2 separate regions of the Homo sapiens genome follow, and region 1 is linked to region 2. The links come from fine-mapping of genetic effects on gene expression. A gene starts in region 2. The other region holds a variant in brackets. All regions are shown on one strand. Distances are from middle to middle.

Region 1 (5,363 bases), 330 kb after region 2:
CACACTACCCACACTATCCACATTACCCACACTACCCACACTGCCCACACTACCCACACTGCCCACACTACCCACACTGCCCACACTACCCACACTGCCCACACTGCAGATGCTGGACTTGCAGCCTCCATTACCCCATGAGTCCCCGCCTTATAATAAATCTCCTTCTCACTTTATGCACCCCCCTACCCCCAGTTCTGTTTCTCTGGAGACCCCGACTCAGCTACTGTGATCCCAGGGAAAGGGAGCCTCAGAGAAAGGAACCCTGTGTCCACCGGGCTTTCTCTCCAGGGATTTGCTGACACCTCCACTGTGCATGGCTGGGGTGAGAAGCCAGGCAGAAAACAGCTGCTTCGAGGCCAGAATTACAGGTAAAGAGTTCAGCATCCTCCCCTTTGTGGGGGAACTGTGGAGCACGAGGCCTTCCAACGAGAGGCCCTGGCGTCAGCACAGACCACGAGAGGGCTGGGCTCAGGATCAGCGCCACTGAAGGACCCTGCCTGCATGGAGGCGCGTGATCCAATGTTCTTTCCTTGCTGGCAGCAGAAAATGTTACTGGCTCCGAAGGAAGATGACAACATCCTGCCTCTTTGCTGAAGTACGTGCACAGCATCCAATGCACCCAGGACCTCTCAGGGCGCCAGACCCTGGCTCTGTGCTTCGGTTGCGTGACTCGGGCAAGCTTCTCATTTCTCCCGCCTTAGTCTCCTCTCACCTCACAGGGCTGTCATGAGGCATGCTGGGCACATGCAGCTCACAGAGAAGGGCTGGCTTCCTCCTTGCACCCTCGCTTCCCTCCTTCCTCTCTCCAGCAGGCAGGCTGATTGTGGAGATGTCTCCTGGGCAGCATGCGTCAGCAGGGATTTCATGGGGACGGTGAGAATTAGCATCCACTCTTGCGGGCGTCAAGTCACTGAAGGACAAATCCCCGGAGGCAGAGGAGGCTGTCACCCTTTCCCCAGGACTCCACATCTGTGGCTGCTGGTCCCCCAAAACCCTGAGAGTTAATAATCCATGCCTGACCTAGGGCAATGGAACGAGGTCTTATCAGGAAAAGCAGGCAGGTCCTCTGCCTTCCTAAAAATTAATGTTTTATCATCAGACTATGAACATGATAATTTTTAAATCTCGATGCTGGAGATCACAGGAAAACATTCTCTCAGGGGCAACATGGAAATCGCTGCTTTGCACAGGGTGACCCAGCCCACACTGTCAATCTGGTGAACTCCCTCACTCTACAAAGCCCACCTCAAATCCCCCCTGCTCTCTGCACAGAAAGCCGCAAATTGTTTCCTGCAATAAAGAGCCTGACTCCGTTTTTATGATGTTTGACGGCTCACTGCTTTGACACCTCACCCATCCCTCTTCCCGTGTGCCCCACAGCAGGGCAGGTGTCTTTGGTGCCAGTGAGAGGCTCAAGCCCTGCAGGCTCCTGCCCATGTGAGGCCATCACCCCACCCCCGAGGCATAAGAAGAGCCCCACGCCAGCTCCCTTCCTGAAGCCACCGTGCACCCCGTGAAAGCCCAGCTAGGTAAGTACCAGACCCTTTCATCTCGTCCCGGTGTGTGGGGGCGTCTTCAGGGTTGACGGAGGAACCACATTTGGGTGGGGTCCCTCCTCTTTTTCCAGAGTGACCACAGCACTCCACTATTTCTTCTTTTCTTTCTTATTTATTTATTTATTTATTTATTTTTTTGAGATGGAGTCTCAGTCTGTTGCCCAGGCTGGAGTTCAGTGGTGCTATCTCTACTCACTGCAGCCTCTGCCTCCTGGGCTCAAGTGATCCTCCCACGTCAGCCTCCCGAGTAGCTGGGACTACAGGCACACGCCACCACACCCGGCTAATTTCTGTGTTTTCAGTAGAGATGGGGTTTCACCATGTTGCCCAGGCTGGTCTCGAACTCCTGACCTCAAGTGATCCATCCGCCTCGGCCTCCCAAAGTGCTGGGATTACAGGCGTGAGCCGCCGCGCCCGGCCAGCACTCTCCAATTTCTGATCCAACTGCATTGTCATACAGAAATCACACCTTGATCGTGTTTACAGACTCATTTCTACGCATAGATACATGTCTCTGATTCCATGCACTGCAACGGTCATTGCATTTAAAAAAGAGGCAAACGCCAAGTCTCCCAGCGCCTTGGAAGACTCAGCCTCTGGGGGCTCCATGGTTTCTGCTTGAAAGGCCGATGGCTGCTTTGCAGAGAACCAGTCCTGAGACTCATACCTTTCTATTCCGATGAGAGAACATTTCTGCACAAGAACCTAGGTCAGGGTTCATGTGTCTGTCCCTTGCGTTCTGCAAAGGACCGGATCATAAATGGTGCAGCTCTGGGGGCCACCCGGGCCCTATGGAAGGAACTTGTCCCTGCCGTCGTGGGGGATGCAGCTGCACATGGCCTGTGGACGTGCTCCAGGAAGGCGCCTGCGGGGGTGGCTGTGAACTCCCGCTGTCCCCAGCACATTCCCTGTTGACACATCCTGGCTGGGAGATGTCTCCACAATCAGCCTG[C/T]GTGCTCCGAAGTGAGGGGGAGAGGGGAAGGAGGGAGGTGAGGGGGCAAGGAGGAAGCCATCACTTCTCTATGAGCTGCGTGTGCCCAGCAGGCCTTGTGACAGCGCTGTGAGGTCGTGCACGTGAGAAGAGACTGAGGCGGGAGAAATGAGAAATAAAAACTGAACATGAGTTCAATTCATCTTGCGTTTCCTTCAGGACAAAATGTGAATTTCATGTCAGTAGTTTGTGCAACCAAGTCCTCTTTGTCCTGTGACTTTTATTCAGGCACTGAACAGTGTAAACTGATTCACACCTTCTGGGCTGCACCACCACAGGGGCCAGCAGGCCTGGGTCCCCCCACCCACCTGGAGTGAGGGGTGCAGTTAGGCCGGCCGGGCATGGTCCCTGCAATCAAGTCTCTAGAGCGGGGGTGACGGCCACGGGGCCTGAAAAGCGGTTCCATAGTGTCTGCAGCTTCTGAGCACTGAGGGATGAGCCCACACACGCATCACAAAACAGCCACAGTGACCTGACCCACACTGTCCAGACGATGGGGCCACATAGGATTCCCACAGTGGGAGATGCTGACCTGGACAAGAGAGGGCAAGGGACAGAAGCTCCCAAGACCCAAGGTAGGGCCCTGCGGGCAAAATGGCCAAGAGCCGCCTTGCACCGCAAATGGGCCCTGAGGTCCAGGGCTGCAGGAGCAGGGTGGGGAGCCCGGCCAGATGGAGGGGCAGACACCGGCACCCGCTGCCTACGTCACCGCCCTCAGTGCCGCCCACAAGCGGGTGCCCCACTGGGTCCCGCCACCCCAAATCCCAGTACCAGAGCCGGGCCCGGCTCTGCCACCCCTGCCACCCTGTGTGGCACCCAGGCCCTGCTGGCACAAGGCCACGGCTAATCTGCTCTCAGAGGAAGCTGAGGAGGCAGCCCTGCCCTCGGTGTTTCCCAAGCCCCCTTATCCCAGCAGATTCTTCTCGGGGAAGATAAGCTCCCAGCTTAGCCAGGGCGGGTGGGAAGTCAGAGCTGCTTCCTTAATTGGCATTTTCCAGTTGAGAGCACATTCTCTACCTTTTTCACTTGGATCAGCTAATTGCCAAATGTTTTCATTTTTGAGAAGAAGTAAAATTGCAGAGATTTGGGATTTAGGGAAGGAATGCAAGGATCAATTTTGCCTAATTACGAAATGTCTCGGCGGTCACTGTGACGGGTCCCAGAGTCGGCCGTGTGGACCCCGGGGCCTCCCGGGCGGTGGGGGGCCGGGGGCTCTGATGCAGATGTTTACCTGATGTCGTGGGCCTGAATCTGGTTTACATTGGAAATCAGACTGTTTACAGGCCAGCACATCTGCCTCTTCCTCTGGCTCTCCTTCATTCTGCTGTAATGTTCTGCAGGTCTCGCTGGGGTCTCTGTGGGAATATCTGTGACACGGAGTGAGCCAGGCCAGCCCGGGGCGGCCCCATCCGGGGACAGCAGCTCACGGCCTGGCCCCGCGTGCGCAGCCGGGGCCTGGGTTGGCGGTGGAGATGGGGAGGGTCTGGGGCCCCTGGGTGGGTGGTGGGGGTACCGTCAGCCCGGCTGCAGGGTTCCAGCGGAGGACAGGGAGCCTTCTCCATCCCTGAAAACCATCGCGGGGACAGTGGACTCATCAGGATGCCGGGACCCTCTAGTGTGTTCTGGAAGCAGAGGCTGGGTGTGGGCACGGGAACCTGTGATTGTCCCCAGACACCGAGAGGTCCACAGGACCCCCAGTGCCCAGACCCCGGCTGCAGATCGGGGGGTCCAGTCATGTGTCGGGGAAGGAGGAGAGGAGCAGGGGCCACAGACAGGGGGTCCAGGAGGGCAGGGGGTCCTGGAGGGCAGGGGGTCTAGGAGGGCAGAGGGTCCAGGAGGACAGGGGGTCCAGGAGGGCAGGGGGTCCAGGAGGGCAGAGCCACAGCAGGCTGGGTGCTGCTGCTACAGGGGGCTTCACCCCAGCAGCCCCCTGCACTGCCCCTCTGACAGCCTCCACCTTTGACCCCCCAGAACAACGGGCTGCTGTGGCGGCTCTGGAGGCTGCGGCCCCAGTCATGGGGCCTGCGGCTGCCATGGGCTGAGACCCTGCTGCTCTTCGTGGAGACACTGATGTCCTTACCAGATCTCCCGGGCCCGCCCTCAGCCTCCAGGCTGACCAGGCTTCCTGGGCCTCCTAGGACACAGCCCTGGGTCTCCTCCTCTAGGATACTGGATGGGAATCTGCGGCTTCCAACATCCACCTGCCGGCCTTTCCCTCTGCCCTGTCCCCTTGCTGCCATGGCCGCCTTTGTCCTCCCTGGAGATTCAGAGAGCAGCCCCGTTCTCAGTTACCTGGCCTTCTGGGTCCTTGGGAGGTTCTGACCTCTTCCCAGCAGGGGCCCTGGGGGCTGCGTCCTGCCTGGTCCAGGCCTTCTCACCCTCACCTCCCTCTGGGCTCAGGGAGCTGGGGCCACACAGCCCAAAGAGGCTGGTCTGCCCGGGACAGGCCACCCTCCTCCTACCAGTGCCCTCCCTCCTCCGGCAGCCACGCTACCTGCCCTTCCTCCCCACCTGCAAAGCCTCCTGCCAAGCCTGACACCTGGGGATTCTGTCTCCCACACTCCAGGGGCCTCCTCCACATGTCAGTGACCTCTGACCGCTGTTTCAGACCCACAGCTCTTGGGTGCACTCAGCCTTGGGTCCCGATGGCACCAGAGTGTTCCACGCCTGGGGCAGCACACTCACTGCAGATCTGGCCTGAGACTCAGCAGCCGGGCACCCCATGAGATCTACTTTCTGAATGGCGTCGTCACCTGACTGGGCATACAGGCCACGGACCCCATGGTCATTTGGGCACTGACCCCTCTCACACC
Region 2 (5,363 bases):
AGAGGAGATACTTGGGGGACAATGAAGTGTCCCCATTCTTTGGATGATGGGGATCTTGGCCTCAGGGTGAGATCCTTCTTGCAGGGTCTCTGGCAGGCACAGAGCCCGGGGGCTCTTGCATAGCACATGTGTATTTCTGGAGGCTTCCCCTTCAGTCTCACCGCCCGGATGGCACAGAATTGGTTGTAGTTGTGGAATCGGAGGTGGCTGCGCGGCGGCAGTGCAGGCTCACACATCACAGCCTGAGCCCGCCCCAGCTGGGGTTCGCCCGTGGAAACATCCCAGGTCATCCAAGCCGGGCGCCACAGGGTTCACAGGGGTCGTGAGGTATAGGACACTCATGGGAGCCATATCGGGCTACGTGTCTGATTCACCCCAGGGTGCACTGTTGAAGGTTGGGGAGATGGGAGGAGATACTAGGGGAACAATGAGGTGTCCCAGTTCCATGGATGATGGGGATCTCGGCCCTAGTGTGAAACCCTTCTCGCAGGGTCTCTGGCAGGCACAGAGCCCGGGGGCTCTTGCATAGCACATGGGTATTTCTGGAGGCTTCTCCTTCGGTCTCACCGCCTGGATGGCACGGAATTGGTTGTAGTTGTGGAATCGGAAGTGGCCGCGCGGCGGCAGTGCAGGCTCACACATCACAGCCCGAGCCCGCCCCAACTGGGGTTCGCCCGTGGAAACGTCCCGGGTCACCCAAGCCACGCGTCGCAGGGTTCACGGGGGTCATCTGGGAATAGGACACTCATGGGAGCCGCACCAGATCTTCAGGTCGGGCATTATCCACAGCCCCGTGGCCCCGGGTCACACTCCGAGGGCTTCAGTGTCATGGCCTGGGACTCAAGTCACGCCTACTTATGTGATGATCACAGTGTGTTCCACCAAAATCTTACATTTTCCACATCTATCCCAGAGCACAGCTCCGACTCCGTCTAAGGACAGCCCCCAAATCCCCAGCCTTTTACTGAACTGACAATTGCCTCCCCAGTGAACACTCTGATCTCCTCAGCCCTAAGTGGCCAGACATTAACATTCTCATTCAATGCAGGTTTGAGGTGCTAATTCAGGAGCTTAAGATGCTAAAGAGCTGGGAGCGCCACTGCTGCTTTATTCTCTGGTCCAGGATCCTTGTGTTGCTGGAGATAATCCATTATCGTGGGTGCAGCAGACACCCTGCGGCTTGTGGACTCGGTACGGGGTGGGGATCCTGATGGGGTTAGGATGTTCGATGGCTCGGGTGTGCTCCACGCTCAGGGATCATCACGTCCGGCCGGCGGTAGTTGGCACGTGGAGAGGTGAATTTGCCCACAGGTGTTCCCCGTGCCTGCGCATTGCTGGCAGCACGACCGGATCCTGTGCTAGCCCCTCCCACAATGCCTGGAGCAGGAGCGAGGGGCCTGGGGAGCCGCCTTGCCTGGAGCATTTGTATTTCCGGAGTATTTCCTGAGTCTCCCCTTGGGTCTTGGGTGCTGTCCCCAGTGAGCCCATCTCCCAGCGATGGCACAGAATCGGTTGTGGCTGTGGAGACGGAAATGGCCGAGAGGCGGCAGTGGTGACTCACATCACAGTCTGAAGGTGACCCAAGGCTGGACTCCACTTTTAGCAAAATGTGGGGGTCTGCCTTGGTCTCCTAACTTGGGGGTCCACTCATGGAAAAGCCTGAGAATTTTCATGCCATGGAAATTCCCCCATGTCGTGGGGTTCACGCACGACAAAGCCCGGCGGTCAGTGCTCAGCAGGCAAGCACTCAGCCCTTTCCGGTGGGGCCATGGGAACAGAGGGTTTGCCGAAGGCGCGGCCAGCCCTTCCACATCCCAGAGGGCCTGCTGGGTGATTGGACCCGTGAACTCTGGGTCCCTTGGCCCTGGTGCTCCCCTTCACGGCTTTGACACTCGAGACTTGAGGTGAACCCCAGGGACTGCAGGGCCCCAACAACCCTCACCAAAGGCCAAGGTGGTGACCGACGGACCCACAGCGGGGTGGCTGGGGGAGTCGAAACTCGCCAGTCTCCACTCCACTCCCAACCGTGGTGCCCCACGCGGGCCTGGGAGAGTCTGTGAGGCCGCCCACCGCTTGTCAGTAGAGTGCGCCCGCGAGCCGTAAGCACAGCCCGGCAACATGCGGTCTTCAGACAGGAAAGTGGCCGCGAATGGGACCGGGGTGCCCAGCGGCTGTGGGGACTCTGTCCTGCGGAAACCGCGGTGACCAGCACAAGCTCGGTCAACTGGATGGGAATCGGCCTGGGGGGCTGGCACCGCGCCCACCAGGGGGTTTGCGGCACTTCCCTCTGCCCCTCAGCACCCCACCCCTACTCTCCAGGAACGTGAGGTCTGAGCCGTGATGGTGGCAGGAAGGGGCCCTCTGTGCCATCCGAGTCCCCAGGGACCCGCAGCTGGCCCCCAGCCATGTGCAAAGTATGTGCAGGGCGCTGGCAGGCAGGGAGCAGCAGGCATGGTGTCCCCTGAGGGGAGACAGTGGTCTGGGAGGGAGAAGTCCTGGACCCTGAGGGAGGTGATGGGGCAATGCTCAGCCCTGTCTCCGGATGCCAAAGGAGGGGTGCGGGGAGGCCGTCTTTGGAGAATTCCAGGATGGGTGCTGGGTGAGAGAGACGTGTGCTGGAACTGTCCAGGGCGGAGGTGGGCCCTGCGGGGGCCCTCGGGAGGGCCCTGCTCTGATTGGCCGGCAGGGCAGGGGCGGGAATTCTGGGCGGGGCCACCCCAGTTAGAAAAAGCCCGGGCTAGGACCGAGGAGCAGGGTGAGGGAGGGGGTGGGATGGGTGGGGGGTAACGGGGGAAACTGGGGAAGTGGGGAACCGAGGGGCAACCAGGGGAAGATGGGGTGCTGGAGGAGAGCTTGTGGGAGCCAAGGAGCACCTTGGACATCTGGAGTCTGGCAGGAGTGATGACGGGTGGAGGGGCTAGCTCGAGGCAGGGCTGGTGGGGCCTGAGGCCAGTGAGGAGTGTGGAGTAGGCGCCCAGGCATCGTGCAGACAGGGCGACATCAGCTGGGGACGATGGGCCTGAGCTAGGGCTGGAAAGAAGGGGGAGCCAGGCATTCATCCCGGTCACTTTTGGTTACAGGACGTGGCAGCTGGTTGGACGAGGGGAGCTGGTGGGCAGGGTTTGATCCCAGGGCCTGGGCAACGGAGGTGTAGCTGGCAGCAGCGGGCAGGTGAGGACCCCATCTGCCGGGCAGGTGAGTCCCTTCCCTCCCCAGGCCTCGCTTCCCCAGCCTTCTGAAAGAAGGAGGTTTAGGGGATCGAGGGCTGGCGGGGAGAAGCAGACACCCTCCCAGCAGAGGGGCAGGATGGGGGCAGGAGAGTTAGCAAAGGTGACATCTTCTCGGGGGGAGCCGAGACTGCGCAAGGCTGGGGGGTTATGGGCCCGTTCCAGGCAGAAAGAGCAAGAGGGCAGGGAGGGAGCACAGGGGTGGCCAGCGTAGGGTCCAGCACGTGGGGTGGTACCCCAGGCCTGGGTCAGACAGGGACATGGCAGGGGACACAGGACAGAGGGGTCCCCAGCTGCCACCTCACCCACCGCAATTCATTTAGTAGCAGGCACAGGGGCAGCTCCGGCACGGCTTTCTCAGGCCTATGCCGGAGCCTCGAGGGCTGGAGAGCGGGAAGACAGGCAGTGCTCGGGGAGTTGCAGCAGGACGTCACCAGGAGGGCGAAGCGGCCACGGGAGGGGGGCCCCGGGACATTGCGCAGCAAGGAGGCTGCAGGGGCTCGGCCTGCGGGCGCCGGTCCCACGAGGCACTGCGGCCCAGGGTCTGGTGCGGAGAGGGCCCACAGTGGACTTGGTGACGCTGTATGCCCTCACCGCTCAGCCCCTGGGGCTGGCTTGGCAGACAGTACAGCATCCAGGGGAGTCAAGGGCATGGGGCGAGACCAGACTAGGCGAGGCGGGCGGGGCGGAGTGAATGAGCTCTCAGGAGGGAGGATGGTGCAGGCAGGGGTGAGGAGCGCAGCGGGCGGCGAGCGGGAGGCACTGGCCTCCAGAGCCCGTGGCCAAGGCGGGCCTCGCGGGCGGCGACGGAGCCGGGATCGGTGCCTCAGCGTTCGGGCTGGAGACGAGGGTGAGTTTTTCCCCCTCTGCCACCCTCAGCCCCCACCCGCCCCTCCCCACACAACCAACACGTTCTCCCCACACGACTCTCTCGTTCTCCCCACAGCCAGGTCTCCAGCTGGGGTGGACGTGCCCACCAGCTGCCGAAGGCCAAGACGCCAGGTCCGGTGGACGTGACAAGCAGGACATGACATGGTCCGGTGTGACGGCGAGGACAGAGGAGGCGCGTCCGGCCTTCCTGGTGAGCGTGTCTGCCCTCCCTGCGTCAGGACGCGGCCCTGCCCAGACCGCCCCGCCGGGCCACCATCTCACTGCCCCGACCTCTGTCTTCTACAGAACACCTTAGGCTGGTGGGGCTGCGGCAAGAAGCGGGTCTGTTTCTTTACTTCCTCCACGGAGTCGGCACACTATGGCTGCCCTCTGGGCTCCCAGAACCCACAACATGAAAGGTGAGGGGCTTCCTGCCACACTTGGGGTGGGGGGCACGCGAGAGGAGCTGAGTGGGACCTCACTCCTTCCCCATCCACAGAAATGGTGCTACCCAGCTCAAGCCTGGGCCTTTGAATCCGGACACAAAACCCTCTAGCTTGGAAATGAATATGCTGCACTTTACAACCACTGCACTACCTGACTCAGGAATCGGCTCTGGAAGGTGAGCACCAGCGCTCCTTCCGGAAGCCTCCAGGCCCCCGAGCACCCTGCCCCCATCCCACCCACGTGTCGCTATCTCTAGGTGAAGCTAGAGGAACCAGACCTCATCAGCCCAACATCAAAGACACCATCGGAACAGCAGCGCCCGCAGCACCCACCCCGCACCGGCGACTCCATCTTCATGGCCACCCCCTGCGGCGGACGGTTGACCACCAGCCACCACATCATCCCAGAGCTGAGCTCCTCCAGCGGGATGACGCCGTCCCCACCACCTCCCTCTTCTTCTTTTTCATCCTTCTGTCTCTTTGTTTCTGAGCTTTCCTGTCTTTCCTTTTTTCTGAGAGATTCAAAGCCTCCACGACTCTGTTTCCCCCGTCCCTTCTGAATTTAATTTGCACTAAGTCATTTGCACTGGTTGGAGTTGTGGAGACGGCCTTGAGTCTCAGTACGAGTGTGCGTGAGTGTGAGCCACCTTGGCAAGTGCCTGTGCAGGGCCCGGCCGCCCTCCATCTGGGCCGGGTGACTGGGCGCCGGCTGTGTGCCCGAGGCCTCACCCTGCCCTCGCCTAGTCTGGAAGCTCCGACCGACATCACGGAGCAGCCTTCAAGCATTCCATTACGCCCCATCTCGCTCTGTGCCCCTCCC

What was found.
Region 1: its variant is fine-mapped to the expression of H19 in lung (TOPMed, PIP 0.97).

The regions. Positions count from the first base shown.
Region 1 is chr11:1,665,244-1,670,606 of GRCh38, reverse strand. It overlaps FAM99A (family with sequence similarity 99 member A), which reads right to left and starts at 5,008. Exons shown (of 3, transcript NR_026643.1): 1 at 4,843-5,008; 2 at 4,064-4,172; 3 at 2,751-3,905. The variant C/T (reference allele first, on the strand shown) is at 2,512.
Region 2 is chr11:1,995,232-2,000,594 of GRCh38, reverse strand. H19 (H19 imprinted maternally expressed transcript) reads left to right here and starts at 2,753. Exons shown (of 5, transcript NR_002196.3): 1 at 2,753-4,077; 2 at 4,174-4,308; 3 at 4,404-4,516; 4 at 4,597-4,719; 5 at 4,801-5,363. It overlaps MIR675 (microRNA 675), which reads left to right and starts at 3,764; the gene lies at 3,764-3,836. It also overlaps a transcript of MRPL23 not described here. RefSeq lists enhancers at 698-1,544, 1,545-2,393, 2,394-3,241.